Regions from separate parts of the Homo sapiens genome. Here region 1 is linked to region 2. The links come from fine-mapping of genetic effects on gene expression. A gene starts in region 2. The other region holds a variant in brackets. All regions are shown on one strand. Distances are between the middles of the regions.

Region 1 (8,330 bases), 180 kb before region 2:
AAGCGAGCAAGTGCTGAGAGGTTTGGCCATTGAGTAACAGATAAAATATTGTAGCTCTCCAAACCCCACGAGTGTCATTCTGAGGGGAAAATAACATTATAGGTTTGTTTGAGGTCATTGGCTAATTAGGTGAAATGAATAAGTAGATTTTAAAAGCCACACTGCCAGCAACTCTTCAGATTGAGGCACTGACCCTTCCTCTCTTACCTGAGCTCTGGAGACTTGGGGAAAAAGTCATGGCACCAGGTGGCCCCAGGGAGGGCCTAGCCTCTGCTGCTTAGCTGAAGCTCTGAACCAAACTGGGAGGAAGCGGCAGGGAGATCAGGGGTGTAAAGACTGCTGTACTCCAGGCAGCCCCCATTCAAGCCTCCCATGGCTCCTTGCTGCCCACAGATACCCAGGCCCAGGCCCACTGCCTCACTTGCCCTTCCCAGTGGCATCCCCAACACTCCTGGGCCAACCTGAGAAAGCAACACACACATCTAGAAACAAACTCTCATGTGTTGATGTTCACTACCCCGCTGTGTTAAGCTTTTCACTTCTATTGTTATCTTTTTAAATCCTCGCGACAGCCCTGCGAAGCTGAGTCTATTATCGTCCCCATTTAATGGATGCAAACACAGAGGCTCAGGTCACACTGCAAGTAAGGAGTGGAGCCAGGGTGTGCAAACCTTGTCTTGTCTGACTCCAAGGCCATGCACTTGTTATAACTAATGGGAGTTCCACTGTATCAGTCACAGTCCGGTCAAGGAAACAGAAGCCATTCTAGGTCCTTCAAATAGAGGAGCTTTCACATAGTGAATTGCTTACCAGGTGTGGTGACAGTAAGAAGGAAGATAGGGTGACCAAAGATTAGGTAATGCAGGAAGCCAATATCTCCCCAAGGGCTGGGAGTCACAAAGGCAAGAGATAATGTGACCTAGACCTGAAGTGTAAGAGGACCGGCTTCTGTCCCAGGAGCTGGCAGCATGGAGGAAGGGCCACAGCTGCCCCTGCCTCGGAGACACCCCTAGAAGAAGAAGACAAAGAGCAAGAGAATGAGGAAGAAGGAAGGCTCTTCTCTCTTCCAGCCCTCTGACCTCCCATGGGCAGAACTTGGCAGGGAGCCACCTGGAAAGGGAGCCCAGAAAATGCAGTCTGTGGGTGTTCTGGCCCAGAAATACAGAGTATGGAGGGGCAGGTGAAAGCTGGGACAGAGAATAAAGAAACAGCATGACCTGGCACAGTACTAAGTGCTTTCCATACCCTAAGTCACATCATCCTCCTAACAACCTATGATGCCAGCAAAAACAGTGGCCCCATTTTAAAGATAAAGAAAATGAATCTTGAGAATACACATGACATGTTCAAGGTCATCCAGTAGAATCTGGATTCAAACCCATATCTGCCTGGCTCCTAAGCCAGGGAACTGGGAGTAAACATGGCAACCTTATCCAAGAGAACTTCGATCCAAGAATCTCATGGCATGTGGCCCACCTGAATGACTCTCCTTCCACGTGGTGCAGCCTTGTCACCCCTTTAGGGAACGTGAGCACGGGGATGAATCACATCTTACCTCATCACAGCCCTCAGCATGCTCCAGGTCCCAGAAATTCTGATAGCAGCAGCAAGAGTCAACAATGGGCCGTGGATTAACAGCATTTACTCTGCAAGGAGCTGCCAGGACTGGGAACACACAGCATGGCCATGCAGGGGCTGTTGGCCAGAGAAGCAGCCCCATCACAGAGCCCAGCTGCAGGCCAGTACTGAAGGCCTGGGTCTTGCTGCTTTGGGTCACTCCCAATTTCATCCACATCCTAAACTCCACTAGCTCTGTGTGCTGCCTCCTTGCTGGATCCAGCTACTGGAGAGGGGAGCCGGCTGTGTCACTGGGGAACTTAACAAGGCTAATTCCACTGAAACCTCCATTAACTTTACTACTTCTGTGTAAGTGTTTCATTGTAAATAATGATTCCCCACCACAGAAACACACTGCCAGAATCTCCCGGCGGACATAAAATTAAATCCAGCCCCCACAGCCTACTCACGAAGTGCATTGTGATAGCTGCATAATCTTCCAAACCACAGAGGGCTGCAAGCACTTTCCACCAATTTCAGGGGAGGCTTGACTTTAATCTGCCCTAATGAACAGATCTATGCACCCCTACACCTTCCCCTGCCTCACACCAAATCCCCTTTCAATTCAGATTCCTTTTTGAGGATGAATTGTACCACAGTTCTGAGCACAAAAGAACCTCACTCATCTCAGACAAGGACTCAGCTTAAAGCCCCCCACCCAGCCCTTCTCTTCCAACAAAGTCCAGGAGAAGATGTTTTAGAAGATACTATATATATATATATGTACACACACACACACGTACGCATGCACACACACACAATTTCCAGGAAGATCAGCAGAATTTCTAGAACGAAGGAGATCTGCCCAGCCGTCCACCCACATGCCCACCGCCCACACACATAGCTTCCCCAATCCTTTCTCAATGCTGGGTCGGAACCTGCTGTTTCCCTGCCTTGCGTACACATGAAACACTTCCCTCCAACCCTGGAGAGAGACTGCACAAGGTTCAGCTAAAATAAGAACCACCTAGAACAAGAAAGTGAAGTCAACTTCACTTTGAAAATAAACAGGCATGCCCTCTGTCTCTCCCAGCCTGGGCAAGGGACAGGAACAGCTTTTGGGTGCAGGGCCCTTGGGAGGAAGCCTTCCCTTCTGAGTTTTTAGATGCAGGTTTCAGGAATGCCCGGACCACCAAGCCTCTGTCTGCTCCCTGCTCACACCCTGCTCCTCCACTCTGCTCAGTGGCTGAGAAGCATGGAGGTGTCATTGCTGAGCTCTCAGGAGCCTCTCTGACCTCCTGGAACCCGCACAAGGCTCTTCACCCTCTCTGTGCAACGACACTCAGCCTGAGGGGTGCACTGAACTGTAGGCTATAATTTAAGCATCTGTTTGTGTGCTCTTCACTTGCTAAACTCATAGCACCGTTGGAGGCGCAGGCAGGTTTAGGTGACCCGAGAAATTCACAATACATCCACAGATCAAGATGAAACCGGGCTGCCCACGCATTGTTCCAGATGAGACCTCCTGTTTCCACATTCAAATTTCCAATTCTGATTTTAAAGAAGAAAAGGAATAGTCTGTTTTTCAAAAACTAAAATCCTGAATGAAGCCTTGCACATAAAGAATATTCAGGCTGAGGGACCTCCACATCAACTGCTCCTGGCCAGCACCTCCTTGTTAATCAAATGACAGTGTGGCAGCCACCCTCCCTGCCCTTGGAGATGGGGCTGCTGCGTTTAGTCCTCACAGCAGCCCCATCGGGCATTAGTTTCAGCTCCATTTTTCACATGAGGAGGTGGCCGCTCATAGGTACACTGACTTGCTCAAGGTCACACAACTATAGAAAACGGCAGAAGGAAGACTCAAACTTGGGTCTTCTTGCTCCAAATCCTCTTCCCAGCACGGCACGGCGCAGGTTCTGCAGTGCCTCGTGTCAGCAGGCCTGAGGGGTTGCAGTCGCAGAGGCCTGTGTCCTCCAGGGCCCCTTTCCACCCATGCCTCCTCCCCCAGAAGTCCTTCCCCACAGAGCAGCACAGCTTCCCCGGGCCGGCTGGGAGGGTCCAGCTGTCACGCTGCATTTCTCTCCACTTATTTCTGCTTCCCTCATGACCTCCGTTTCAACAAGATGTGCCTTTAAATTAGATCCCAGAAGGAACTTCAAGGCAAATTCCCACATTTGTGACGTTTATGGAACTTGTCATTGTTTATGCTATTATAGTGCCATCAGCTGTGAGGGCACATTCTTCCTGGTTACAACATTGTTTTTCTTCCCTTTGGGAGGGAAGCACCCTTGAAACCAGAGGCTTGTCTGGTACCCGCATAACCTCCTTATTCCCTACTCCACTTATGTATATTTTTCTCTGTGGATCATGTACATGGTCTTTCAATTTCATGTCTGTGATTTATACATTGCAGTGTTTGCTATCCTCTGTACAACAGAGAGAAAATAGTTACTTTACAGGAAGAACAATGTGACAGGCTCCCAACTCTGCAACATTCGCCAAACCCGGAGTCAAGTGCAGCTTTAGCTTTCGTAAGTGTTGGAATTTAGGCTTCATGTTTCACTTACTCTTGCAGGCAACTGAAGAGCAGAAACCAACTGTTTGTGGCCAGCCCTGAGCTAGGGACCAAGGAAGAACCAAGACATGTAATATCTTATATCCTCTCCCTGGGGACTTCTCAACTTGTTGGAGGGAAAAAAGATACATTAAACTATTAGAAAACAATGCAATGTATGTTATTGATAGTGTATTCTAATAAATAAGCTGCTATTTTCAGAAAAGGGTGGTAATAGGAGATGTTTCGGATTTGAAGGGAAGTTATACAAGAAAACATTG[A/G]TTGTGTTTGAAAACTATACATTTTCTGAAAACTTGTTATAATGTATCCCTTTAAAAGCTTAATACAAACTATCTCATAGGCTGTTGCCAAGCTTTGAAAAGTCCACAAGGAGGTAAGGAAAGAAAGAAATTATTAAATTGTAAAAATACTGATTAAAGGAAGAAGACCCTTTCTTTAGAAAAAATAATATTCTTCTGATTAGTCACAGAATTTCTTGAGGGTTTCATGCTAACATCATGCCTTCAGCAAAAGGTCAAGTTTTCCTTCTCATCTGGTTCTTGATCAGCCTGAGCTAAAGACAGACCCTCCCTGGAAATGAGCCATCAAGGATGAAAGAGACAGAAGCTGAATTTAGCAGGAGGGAGAATGAAGATGAAAAGTGAAAGCAAACAGGGGTAGGACGCAGCCCCAGTGACCACATGTCCTGGCTTGCTGGGACAATTCAATTTACACCCACTGTTCCAGCATTAATTATTAACAGTGTCCCTTTTCCTTACCAGAATAATCCTGATTGGGACAATAAGTAACATGGGCCACTCTAGAAACAGTGGGAACAAGAGTCCAGAGGCAGGAATTGGCAGTGTGTGTGCTCAGGGGTGAGAGGTGCTATGAAGACTCCAGCTCAAGTGGAGAGTTGAGCACATGTGGGGACAGGGAAGAGGGCACTGTGGAGGAGGCGCAGGACTGGATCCAACAGGGCCCAGAAGCCAGCAGGGAGGAGCTCCTACTTCATCCCATGGGTTTATTAGGGAGTCACTAAGGATTCTTGAGCAGGATAATTATGACCCCAGGCAACATGCTCAGAAAGGACAAGGAGTGAGATACCAGAGAAAAGGAGACTGGTCGGAAATTCAGTTGCCAGGAACGTAGCGGTGCAAGGAGGAGGAACACAAAAGGCAGGAGGATCAGATGCCAAGGGTCTTATGGGAGCCCAACGGGGGCACAGTGAGAAGGGAAGAATGAAGACAAGTGACCCTGGGGGGTCACACTCAGGCATATTTCTCAATCAAACCTCCTGCACTTCTTGAGTGACAAAGATGACTTGCCTCCAAGACTCTGCATTGCAAGAACAAAGAGAAAAGCTGATATGACAAAATGCTTAGAATTATGTCTTTGATGTATGAACACTCCTCGCCCCCTGGACCCTGATAAACAGAGTTCACCCCAGAATCCCTTGATGTATCCAAAGTGCACATCTTTAATAACAAGAGGTCTCTGAAGGTAGATTTCCTCTTCCATTTGTGGAGCTATTTCAATTTTTAGGGGCTTGGAGATGCTTCCGATTAATTGTTAAGTTAGCCTTTTGAGACCTCAATTTATATGCAGCATTGACCAGTGTCTGCAAATAATCTGAGCAGAGGAAGGAATAGATCCTTAGGAAATTAATGTAATCGTTTCAGCTCATTATTTGAAGAGCATATTCTCAGAGCCCAGAAACTTCATTCATTCATTCAAAATTGCTCTGAAATCCAATTAAAATCAGGGGTCACACACAGAACCATTGTTTATTTCTTCATTACTGAGATGGGAGAGTAGACTTTAAAACTGCAGAAATCTAAGGAAGGTGAGGGTGGAGCCGTGGGAAATCAGGGAGGGTCCCTGGTGAAGCCAGAAAGCTAAGGATGTGAACATTCCGGGGGCGTCATGGAAAGGCACACGCACCGATGCTCCTGGAAAGGCAACATTTCAACAAGAATATGAATCCCATCTTTAATAAATAGTTTTTAGTCCTTCAGCAGATATTAAACATCCTTTTTCGGACCCACGAACTCTAACGCCATGCAAAAGGAAGCCCAAAACCAAAAAACAAAGAGTAGAGAATTACCTCCCAGAGGTAATTCTGCCAGAAGTCTGAAGATATGTGGGAAGGAAATGTGATTCATTTATTCATGTGTCCTTTTAACAATATCCATAGAGATCTTACCTAAACTACAGCAGTGAACAAATCAGACAGTCTCTCTGCCCTGGAGTAGCTTTCATGTGGGGGCAGGAGGTGGGGTTGGGGGCATGGGCATGGAAACAGACCATGAACAATAGACAAAGTAAACAGGTAAAGCATATGGTACATTAGAAGGTGATCAAGTGCCATAGCGTTCAGGAGACAAACCTTCAAGGCAAGAAGTCAAGAACTTCTGGATGGGCAAGAACAAAACAGGAAAAGAAAGCAGAGCCCAGAGCTGGTCACCACCAGGTGCTCCTGGGCCATTCATAGGTCCCAATCAGCTCCTCTCAAAAGTAGCTTCAGCACCCCAGGAAATAAGTTGAAATTAAAACATCAGAAGAGGGTGTCCCACAGCAGCCCTGCTGGTCCCCTGAGCAACAATTACATTCCACAGGAAAGGACTTCAGCACAGCCCCAAATCATGCCCCTGTACCCAGAATCTCTCCCCAGCCCTGCACTCTCCTCCTCTCCAGGGGCTGGTTTGGGCCCCCTTGGACAGAGGGAGTGATGAGGCCTTAGTCTGAAAGTCAGTCTTAGGGGACTTGTCACACAGAGGGGAGATCTCACTGGAAGCCAGATCCTCAGGATGTCAGAGACTCAAACACCCAGCAGGTCTGAGAATAGCTCCCAGAGAGGCAGTATGGTGTCCCGGACAGAGTGCCCCTGTCTCCTTCCCCACTCCTCCACCAAGCTGGAAACCAGGGGAGTCCTGCTTGGCCAGGAGCCTGCTGGGACACATGGACCAGTCCACTCCCCTCTCTTGTCTCAAGTCCCTCTGTTGTAAAATGAGGAGGCTGATTGGGTGGCTTTCTGACCAAGGTCAGCATACCCTGGAACTGGGGCATGGGGAAGTCCTCATGCCCCCTCCAAAGCCAGCCTGCCCCTGGGGAGAAAGGGCCAGATGGGAGGGCTGCAACTCCCCGCTGCAGAACAGCTCCCCTTTTCTTTGTCTTACATATTGAGTTTCCTTCTAAGGTTTAATTTTTTAAAGAATGTTGCTGCTAGATAGATGTTTGAAAGCCACTTCTAGTGTTCTGAGACAAATACCTTTGAAGAGACGGGACAAAGACCAAAGTGTTTTTCCCTCTACCCCCACACCACCCAGGCACTCAAGACAATACTTCTGACACCAGATGCATGGGAGGGTTTTCTCACACACCACGCAATTCTGTAGGTGATTCTCTAGCAGACACCAGCTGGGTGTCCTCTTCTTCAATTCAGTTCTGACACTGTCTACCTGGAGAGAGCATCAGATCCCACAGGACTGCTCCCACTCCAGATGCCAATCATAAATAGTGGGTTGCCACCTATGCTTCTGATGGACCCACTATAAATGAGGGTTCCCACAGCCCCCTCCTTGGGTTCGATTAATCTGCTATAGCAGCTCACAGAACTCAGGGAAACGCTTTACTTACATTTACCAGTTTAATCCAGGTGAAAGAGATCCACAGAACAAGGCATGTGCCCCCATCCTGAGGCTATTTAGGGGCCACCAGCCATCTCAGAAGCAGACAAAAGACACTCATATCCCTCTAGAGATTCCAGGGCTTCAGGATCTCTTGCCAGGAAAGGGAGATGAAGACCAAATGTATATTTCACAGTATCAGAGTACCTGAGTATATTTCACCACCATTAAACAAGAGGTGATGCATGACTCAGCTCCATCAGAGAAGTAAGAAGACTCGGGGCGAAGAAGGCCCTGTGCCTTTCTCTGGCACACTGGAAGCACCTGCTTGTGTACCAGCTTCTCACCAAGACCCCTGTTGCCAAAGCAACCAAGTTTGGCTTTTCCTGCCCAAAGCACGCAGGCATCCTTGAGCAGGGGAGAGGTGGAGCCAGGCATGCACCGGGAAACCACCACATACCATGTCCAATGGCTGAGCCCTTTGAACTCTCAAGGTTGCTAAATGGTACCTGAGTCCAGGACTCCCACCAAGACACCCAACTCCACAGACAGACAAGTTAATAAATCACAGCGTGAATCCCCTTCAG
Region 2 (8,330 bases):
GAAAACGGACCCTTATAATAGACACTCAGCACCACTGTCCTTGCAAGAAATAGAGGTGACTCCATTGTCCACTGCCAGTTGGCCCGCACACAGCCATGCACAAGTTCACTCTGACTGGTGTGGAAAAATAATGTCTCCCATCTGAACACCAATTTTGACTTTCCAAAAGGCATTCACATCTGTTAGCACCTTGCAAGGGTCCCTTGGAGTGCAACTGCAATGTGAGAGCACCACCATTCAGACCAGGCCTTGAATCCCAACTCCACTCCTGCCAGGCTGTGTTACCTCACCTCTCTGTGCTCGAGTCTGCTGACCTGTGAAATGGAAACACACTATCTCTCTCCCAGGGTATAGGGTGGTGAACTCAACATCACAGAACATTCGTTGAGCCCCCAGAAAGGTGCTGAGCAAGCCCTCAATCAGCAATCACTGTAATGACGACAATCATACTTTTATAGCAGACAAACTCGGCCGGGCTCAGTGGCTCACACCTGCAATCCCCGCACTTTAGGAGGCCGAGGCGGGTGGATCAGGAGGTCAGGAGTTCAAGACCAACCTGGCCAAGATGGTGAAACCCCATCTCTACTAAAAAATACAAAAAAATTAGCCAGGCATGGTGGCAGGCGCCTGTAATCCCGGCTACTCGAGAGGGTGAGGCAGAGACTTGCTTGAACCCGAGAGGTAGAGATTGCAGGGAGCCGAGATTGCACCACTGCACTCCAGCCTGGGCAACAGAGTGAGACTCCATCTAAAAAAAAAAAAAAAAAAAAGAGAGAGAGAAACTGAGGCACAAGACAGTGACTTGACCTGTATGAGACCGACCCTATGGCTCACCAGACCTGTGTTATGGGCCTAAGCTACTCTCCAGTGCTCTTTCCAGCACAGTTCTGAGTAAAGAACTTAAAGTCCCACTCATCCCAAACCCCCTGAGTACGTGGTAAAATGGAGAAATGCGCCCAGACCCAGCTGAGGAGCCCACTGGTCAACTTTTCTCAGTGGCTACCACAGGACTCCATGGAAAACCCAAAGCCGCAGACTACAGAATCTCTGAGCACCAGGAGGGGCTGCCTCCAAGCTTCGGCTGGTCCTCAACCACACATGCGCCTCTTCCAGTCACTACCACCGAAGACACTACACCACGGGAAATTCCATCAAAGGCGAAGTGGACTTCAGTGCTTCAGGAGCATCTTCCTGGTAAGGGTAGAGGTTGGATGCCCTTCACCTCCCCAGCATGGAGTTCACTGTCCACACCTGCCTAGTGTTCAGCAAGGCCAGGGGCCCACAGGCACCTCATCCCTGTATGGTCCCCCACTTTCTGAGCTACGAATAACCCCTGCCTATAGCCCCACTCTAGAATAGCAAAAATAAAACTAAATAATCAACAAGGAGTAGTCCCCACTACCCACAGGCAGGCACCCTACTCAGGACAACCCCAGCACAAGCTGTCCATCCACCCACCATGAGGGAAGGGGTAACAGGCCCAACACCTTCTGTAGAATCCCAGTCACCCATGTCACCCTCCCTGCAAGCCCAGAAACACCAGTTCAACAAGTTTCCCTCGGGACTTGGAAAACCAGAGAATGAAGACGATGTGTTTAAAGCACTTATTTCAAGAGACTATACATACTGTTACAGTTCTTTAAATATTTGTGACTCTCTGCTAGGTGAGGCTGTTTTCCACAAGTGAGATGTCTGTGTCCCTCAAAAGGATGTCCAGGACCGGGCATGGTGGCTCACGCGTGTAATCCCAGCACTTTGGGAGGCGGAGGCGGGTGGATTGCTTGAGGCCAGGAGTTTGAGATCAGCCTGGCAAACATGGTGAAACCCCGACTCTACTAAAAATACAAAAATTAGCCAGGCGTGGTGGTGTGTGCCTGGGATCCCAGATACTCTGTGAGGCTGAGGTGGGAGGATTGCCTGAACCCAGGAAACAGAAGCTGCCATGAGCCGTTATGGTGCCACCGCGCTCCAGACCTGGCAACAGAGCAAGACCCTGTCTCAAAAAAAAAAAAAGTCCAGGATCAAAGGACTATGGTCTGGGCCTGCAGCCCTTCATATGCCCATTCAATAATTCCACAAATACTCAATAAGCACCTACTATGGGCCATGTACTGGAATAGTAAAACTCTGTCAGTAAAGATGGGTGGATTCTGACACAAGAGTGCATTTACCCCCACAGACCCTTCTCAAGCACCTACTGTGTGCCAGGCAGCACCACCCCAGGCACTGAAGACAAAGTAGCACAGGGCCTCAGTGCCTCAGTCTGACCCTTAGGAGCTGAGTTGGTCCAGAGCTGGGGTGGGCAGAATGAAGGCTGGCCCTCGGTAGTCTGCTCTGGCCTTCTCCTGCCTCAGTGGAGAAGTTTAGGCAACAGAGGAGCCCTTTCCCCTATCTCCCCAGGAGAGGGGAGGCTAGTCAAGGGGACAGGGACCCCGGGCGGAACGGGCTCTAAACCAGGGTCTGCTCCTGCATTCAAGATCTCCACATGCAAACTTACTGCTCCAGCTTGACAATGTCCATTTGTAAACTTACAAGATTTTTCATAAATTAAGCTGAAAGTTACTCAATACCTGGTATACAAATGCTTGTCAATAATAGTGAAAGAATGTTTAAAAACAGGAGCTACATTTATTGAACCCCTTCCACAACGCCACGTGTAGCAAAATGGTCTGCGGGGGATGGGCTGGATTCACCCAAAAAGCCCCAAGGGTGTCAGGGTTTCTACTTAGCCCTTCTCCACACCGGCACTGTTCTAAAGGTTTCATGCTAATTAATTCATTTTATTATTCCCCAAAACTCATCGAAGGAGAGGTACAATTGCTCCCGTCCTATAGATGAGAAAACGAAGGTATGGGGACTTCCCAGCTGTGTGACCTTGTACAAACCACTAAGACTGCGGGCCTCTAATCCAAAGTCAGGCTCCGAAACAGTTTCCAGAATGCACCGCCGCATTTGGCGAATGAATGAACGACCGAACCAGTAATCACTCCTAAGACCAAGAAGGCCACATCCTTCCCCGTGGGGCCTCCTTTTCCGAGGCCAAACCTTCAGCCCAGGCCCGAGCTCCGGCCTCTACCGCCTAAGTCGACTCTCGGCCGGCGCGTTCCGCTCTAGAAGGCTCTGGCACAGGCGGGCGGTGCCGGGCGCCAGCTTCTGCGGGCGTGGGCCGGCCAGGGCGCGTGGGCCTGGGGACTCGGGGCCACGGTCGTCACGTGAGCTCATCCCCGAGGCGGCAGCGTGGCCGGCACCCGCCCGCTGGCCTGGTCCGGCGAGCGTGGGCGGCGAACGGGTCCCCGCCGGATGCACGCTGGTGGGATCCAGGGCCAGAGGGCGCCGCCGGGGAAGGTCACCTAGACGCGCGGCCCGCCGGGCCTCCACGCGGCCGCCCTTGCACTTCCGCCCGCAAGCCCGGGCCGCCTCTCGCCGCCAGCCGCAGGCGTCTCTGGACCCTCGGCCTCGCGCTCCCCAGCCCAGACCTGTTCGGCACCCGCCTGTGCGGCCTTCTCTGCCCGCCCGCTCACCAGCCAGGCCCGCGCCGGCCGCTCGCGATCCCTCCCCGCGGCCGGGCTGCCGGGGCCCCTCGCCCGCTCCTCCCTCAGCGCCTCCCTCTCAGCTCCCCAGGGGCCTGGCCCCCGCCGTCCAGGGCGCAAGGAAGCCGGGGTCCTTTTCCGCTGCGCCTACCTCAGAGGATGTGGCGGCGGGCTCGGAGGCGGCTACGGCGGGGGCTGCGACGCGGAGGCAGGGAGCCGAGCCAGGGAGCGGAGCCGAGCGAGCGGCTGGGCCAAGGGCGGGGCGGCGCGGACGGCGGCGGCGCGGACCCGCCTCCCCTCCTGCGCGCCCGGCCCGGCGCGCTCCGCCCCCAGGCCCCGCCCGGGACAGCGTCCAGGCCGGGCCAGGGTCCCCATCCCGCTAGCGAGCCGCGTTCTTACCCTTCCGGGCCCCGCTGCCCCGGCAGCAGACACAGGAGCCTGCGGGCGTGTTGCGGGCGCGCGGGAGGACCTGCGTGAGTCGGGGCACGGGGAGGCGCCGGACTGACGTGTGCACCGTGTGTGCGTGCGCAGGGACACGCGGGTTCTTGCTGGAAACCTCGGCCCCAGTGGCAGCGCTCGGGAAGGGGGAGGAGGCCTTCCGATTCTCTGAGCTGTGGCCCGGAGGTCCCTGCGCTAATGGAAGACGCGCGGGGCTCCTGGGCCTCCTGCTTGGCCTCCGCGCTGCTAGATCCCCCGGGAGTTGATGTGGCCGGCGCTGGACCCAAGCCTCGCCTGGGTGGACAAAGTGGCCCCCGGCCCCCCATCAAAGCCCGCGTGGGCCCCATCCCCCGAGGGCAGTCCCAGGCCCAGCGCGGACACTGGGCGCCTGGGGCGGCGCAGATACAGAGTAGAGGCGGCGACTGTTGCTCCCGAGCTCCGCGCTCCGGATACAATGTGTCTGGCGCCTCCGACCCGCCCGCGCGGCGTCTAGACAATCTCAGAGAAAACCCCTGTGCGCCGATTTTGCACTACAGATTAGCGATTTTCTCCTGTAGCAAAGCTACTAGCAGCCAATTTCCATGCATTTGAGAGGCAAAAAGACAAAATAAAACAAAACGTGGATTGGGTTTTGCGAGGTCCCTGCTGGGTCTCTCGGCGCGAGGAGATCACGCCGGTTATGGCCGGCCGGCCGACTGAGGGCACCCCGGGTAACCCCCGCGACCAGCCGGGGCGTGTCCTGCGGGACCCAGTTAGTGTGTGTTGAGTGAACGGTCACCTCGCTGCTAGGCCTAAGCGAGTGGTCTCGTTCACCACTGAGTGTCCCCTGTGTTACGCGCGAGGCCCACTCGAAGCAGGTTTCGAGAATTAATTCGTAGATGGACGAAGATTCTACACATCCTTCGCCTTTGATCAACAAACGTCCTGGAAGGCTTGAGGCGTCTAGGGCCCTGTGGAGGAGGTGCCGGGTTACAGAATCAGGACACTCCTCACAGCCAGCTGCGACACTATCTAAAGCAGTGGGCAACTGGGGCTACGGAGGAGGCAATCAGGACTGGCTGCTGGGAAAAGGCGGCAGATTAAAAGTGGCGACTGGAGTTGGAAAAGGTGCTCCAGTGGGATAGGGTGCTGAGGAAGAGGGCAGCTGATACAGAGTGGGAGTGGGGTGCAGACAGGTTACCTAGGCCCTGTGTAGGGGCTGGGGGAGGGGTGACTGGGAATGTAAGGAAGAGCCCCCTTCAAGATCCTGAGGAGTGTAGGACGGATTCTATGACCCTCCCAGGCGCACGAGTTGCCTGGGAACTCTGGGCTTCCCAGCCTGGTGGTCCCCACCCCGCACACTGAGACTGGTGGGCAGGGGGAGGACAAGAACTCAGGGAGGCCGGGCGGGACAAGGCGGGGCTCCAGGAACCCCACAGGGCTAGGAACAGATGCCGGTGCAACCCAGTTTTGAGGCTGGGAGCAAATGTCGAAGGGCTTCCTCCCCTCCAGCGCCACCTCTCAACTCCGCTTTAAAGAACCAATCTGGGCCGGGTGCAGTGGCTCAAGCCTGTAATCCTAGTACTTTGGGAGGCCGAGACAGGCAGATCACTTGAGGCCAGGACTTCGAGACCAGCCTGGGCAACATGGCAAAACCCTGTCTCTACTAAAAATACAAAAACTAGACGGGCGTGGTGGCGCGCGCCTGTAGTCCCAGCTACTCAGGAGGCTGAGGCACGAGAATCGCTTGAACTTGGAAGGAGGAGGCTGGAGTCAGCTGAGATTGAGCCGCTGTACTCCAGCCTGACTGACAGAGTGACATTGTCCCCCCCCCCCAAAAAAAAAAAACAAAAAAAAACAACAACTTGGAAAGAGTTCTTCATGGCCTCTGCTACCCTGGGCCCCTTCGCCAGCTCCCCTAGGTGCTAGTTTCAGATTAACCACTCACTTAGTGGCTGCGTGACCCAGGCAAGAAGGCTGGCCTCTAAGAGCCTCAGCTTCAGAGTGTTGGTGTAAGTTTAAAATGGGACACATAAAGAGTAGGCACTCGGCCCCGTGCAGTGGCTCACTCCTGTAATCCCAGCACTTTGGGAGGCTGAGGCGGCTGGATCACCTGAGGTCGGGAGTTCGAGACCAGCCTTACCAACATGGAGAAACCCCGTCTCTACTAAAAATACAAAAATTAGCCGGGCATGGTGGCACATGCCTATAATCCCAGCTACTCGTGAAGCTAAGGCAGGAGAATTGCTTGAACCCAGGAGGCGGAGGTTGCGGTGAGCTAAGATCTCACCATCACACTCCAGTCTGGGCAACAAGAGCGAAACTCTGCCAAAAAAAAAAAAAAAGAAAAAAGAGTAGGCACTCATCAGTAACTGGGCCAGGCTCAGAGGCACATGTGGGTAATCCCAACTGTTTGGGAGGCCAAGGAGGTAGGATGGCTTGAGGCCAGGAGTTCGAGGGTGCAGTGAGCTAGCATCCCACTACTGCACTCCAGCCTGGACCACAGAGCAAGTTCCCGTCTCAAGAAATAGTATTAGTAATTTTTTAAAAAACAAAATCAGCTGAGATCTGCAGGTGCCATAATCACTAGAATCCATTGACCCACCACAACCCTGAGGGAGAGGGGAAACCCCCTGAGCCCCACCTCCATTCCATCTGCCACAGCTGATTGGGTCAGGGTTGGGCCCCTGACCCAAGCCAGGTCAATCAGATCCTCTCTTGCAAACCTGAACTGAGAAACCCAGGGATGAGTATGGCAGAGGGGAAAATGCGGGAGCTTTCAAGGCCCTTGGGGAGACCTGGGTCTGGCATCCCTGTCGGTGTTGCGAAGTTAACGAGGGCTTTTCACAGAACAGAGAATGGAGCAGCCGCTGCAGAGGGTGGCTCTGGGCCCCTGTTCCTTGAGTGCCCCCCTGTTCTTGCCATGCGTGGGTTTCCCTGTTCCACTTCAATAACCCCACTTGAGCTTGACCCAGCTAGAGCAAGTCCCTGGCGAAGACAGTCAAATCTTGGTGGGTGGAGAAGGAGGTTTGTGGGGACAGGACAATCCTAACCTCAGTTTTTCTCTGGGCGAATGACCCTGTTTCCCTCTCCTTTTGGTCAGCAAGCTTTCATGGAGCTGACTCCATCCCTGACTCCAAAGCCTTCCTGGGAGTGGCCACATGGCCCAGTCTGACCAATTAGAGCCCTGTATACCTCTCCTGCCCCCGCCTCTCCGCCCCCACATCCTGGCCTCCCACCGCCCCCGATCCCCGCCCCGCAGGGATGGACCAATGAGACCAGATGAGAATTCCTGGGGCTACAGGAATAAAGACTCCCTGAAAATGAAGTAAGCCCATAAGAGAAAGGCAGAGATGAGGTCCTGAATCTAGCCATGCCGGAGACTACACCCTGTACTTACCAGCTGCCTGAGCCAACGGCCTCCTGTTTTGCCTAGTCCAGTTTGGATTGTTTTCTTCCAGATGCTAACTCAGTTCCTCTCCTCCATTCAAGAAGAACAATGTAAAACATCCAGGGAAAATGAGATTTTTCTTTCATTGTTAATATTGGAATGGGTTACCAATGTAAGACTATTTCATTTTAGGGAGTTTTTGGTTTTTGTCTTATCTCTAACTTACAGCCTTAGGGCTTCTACTGTAGATATTTATCAAAGTGGAAAGCAGCCAATTTATGATCAGAATCATAAACCTATTCCACCCCCCTTTCAAGAACATAGGATGAAACACTCCCAACTCTTCTCTTTTCAGAGCCAGATGTCCCTGGATTTCTATGTGGTTTCTTAGCATTGTCTGTGCTAAGTACCAGAGCTTGAAGATGAAGTTCATGAAGGCAGAAATGGTAGTCATTTATGTAAATTAATTTTTAAAGAGAAAGATATTCTGCTTGTAACCAGCATCAATTAATTGGATTATAAAGTTGCATTGTCATAAAACCTAACTTTCCAATCATTTTCCAGTGAACTCCTCAGACTAGAGTCTGGGTAGGAAGAATCAAGATGGCGTGTTTGTGGTCAAGGATCTCAGGCCACACTCCCCACACTGTGCCCTGACACTCAGCATCCAGGGAAGGACCCAGCTGGGCCTCCAGGTTCTGAGTGACAGCAGTAATCTCTTGGGGAAACAGGACAGAAAGCATCCCAAGGTAAACACAATTGATAATATTCTCCTGCATATCCCAAAACATGAGGTGTCCTAGATCTAATCTAAAACAATTCCAAGAAGCTCCAACATCATAGCTATGATTTTTAAGAATTTTGTATATATATACACAGAGAGACAAATATTGGAAAGAAATGTATTAAGTATTAATGAAGTATTTATGGGAATTTATCAATTCTTTTTTTTTTTTTTTTTTTTTTTTTTGAGATGGAGTCTCTCTCTGTAG

Alleles and levels. Alleles are on the strand shown, and positions count from the first base shown. SD is a standard deviation of normalised expression in the study named.
For the expression in stomach of the gene that starts at base 4,010 in region 2, allele A in region 1 goes with a higher level than allele G (moderate effect, 0.43 SD a copy in GTEx).

The links.
Region 1: its variant is fine-mapped to the expression of VDAC1 in stomach (GTEx, PIP above 0.99).

What each region holds. Positions count from the first base shown.
Region 1 is chr5:133,816,607-133,824,936 of GRCh38, forward strand. It overlaps a transcript of FSTL4 not described here. Among named protein-coding and RNA genes, the nearest start is that of WSPAR, 93 kb to the right of the region's middle. RefSeq lists an enhancer at 8,214-8,263. The variant A/G (reference allele first, on the strand shown) is at 4,396.
Region 2 is chr5:134,000,966-134,009,295 of GRCh38, forward strand. It overlaps VDAC1 (voltage dependent anion channel 1), which reads right to left and starts at 4,010. Exons shown (of 9, transcript NM_003374.3): 1 at 3,930-4,010. RefSeq lists enhancers at 2,734-2,783, 2,794-2,843, 4,494-4,613, 4,684-4,743, 4,784-4,853 and silencers at 3,074-4,113, 4,174-4,233, 4,274-4,323.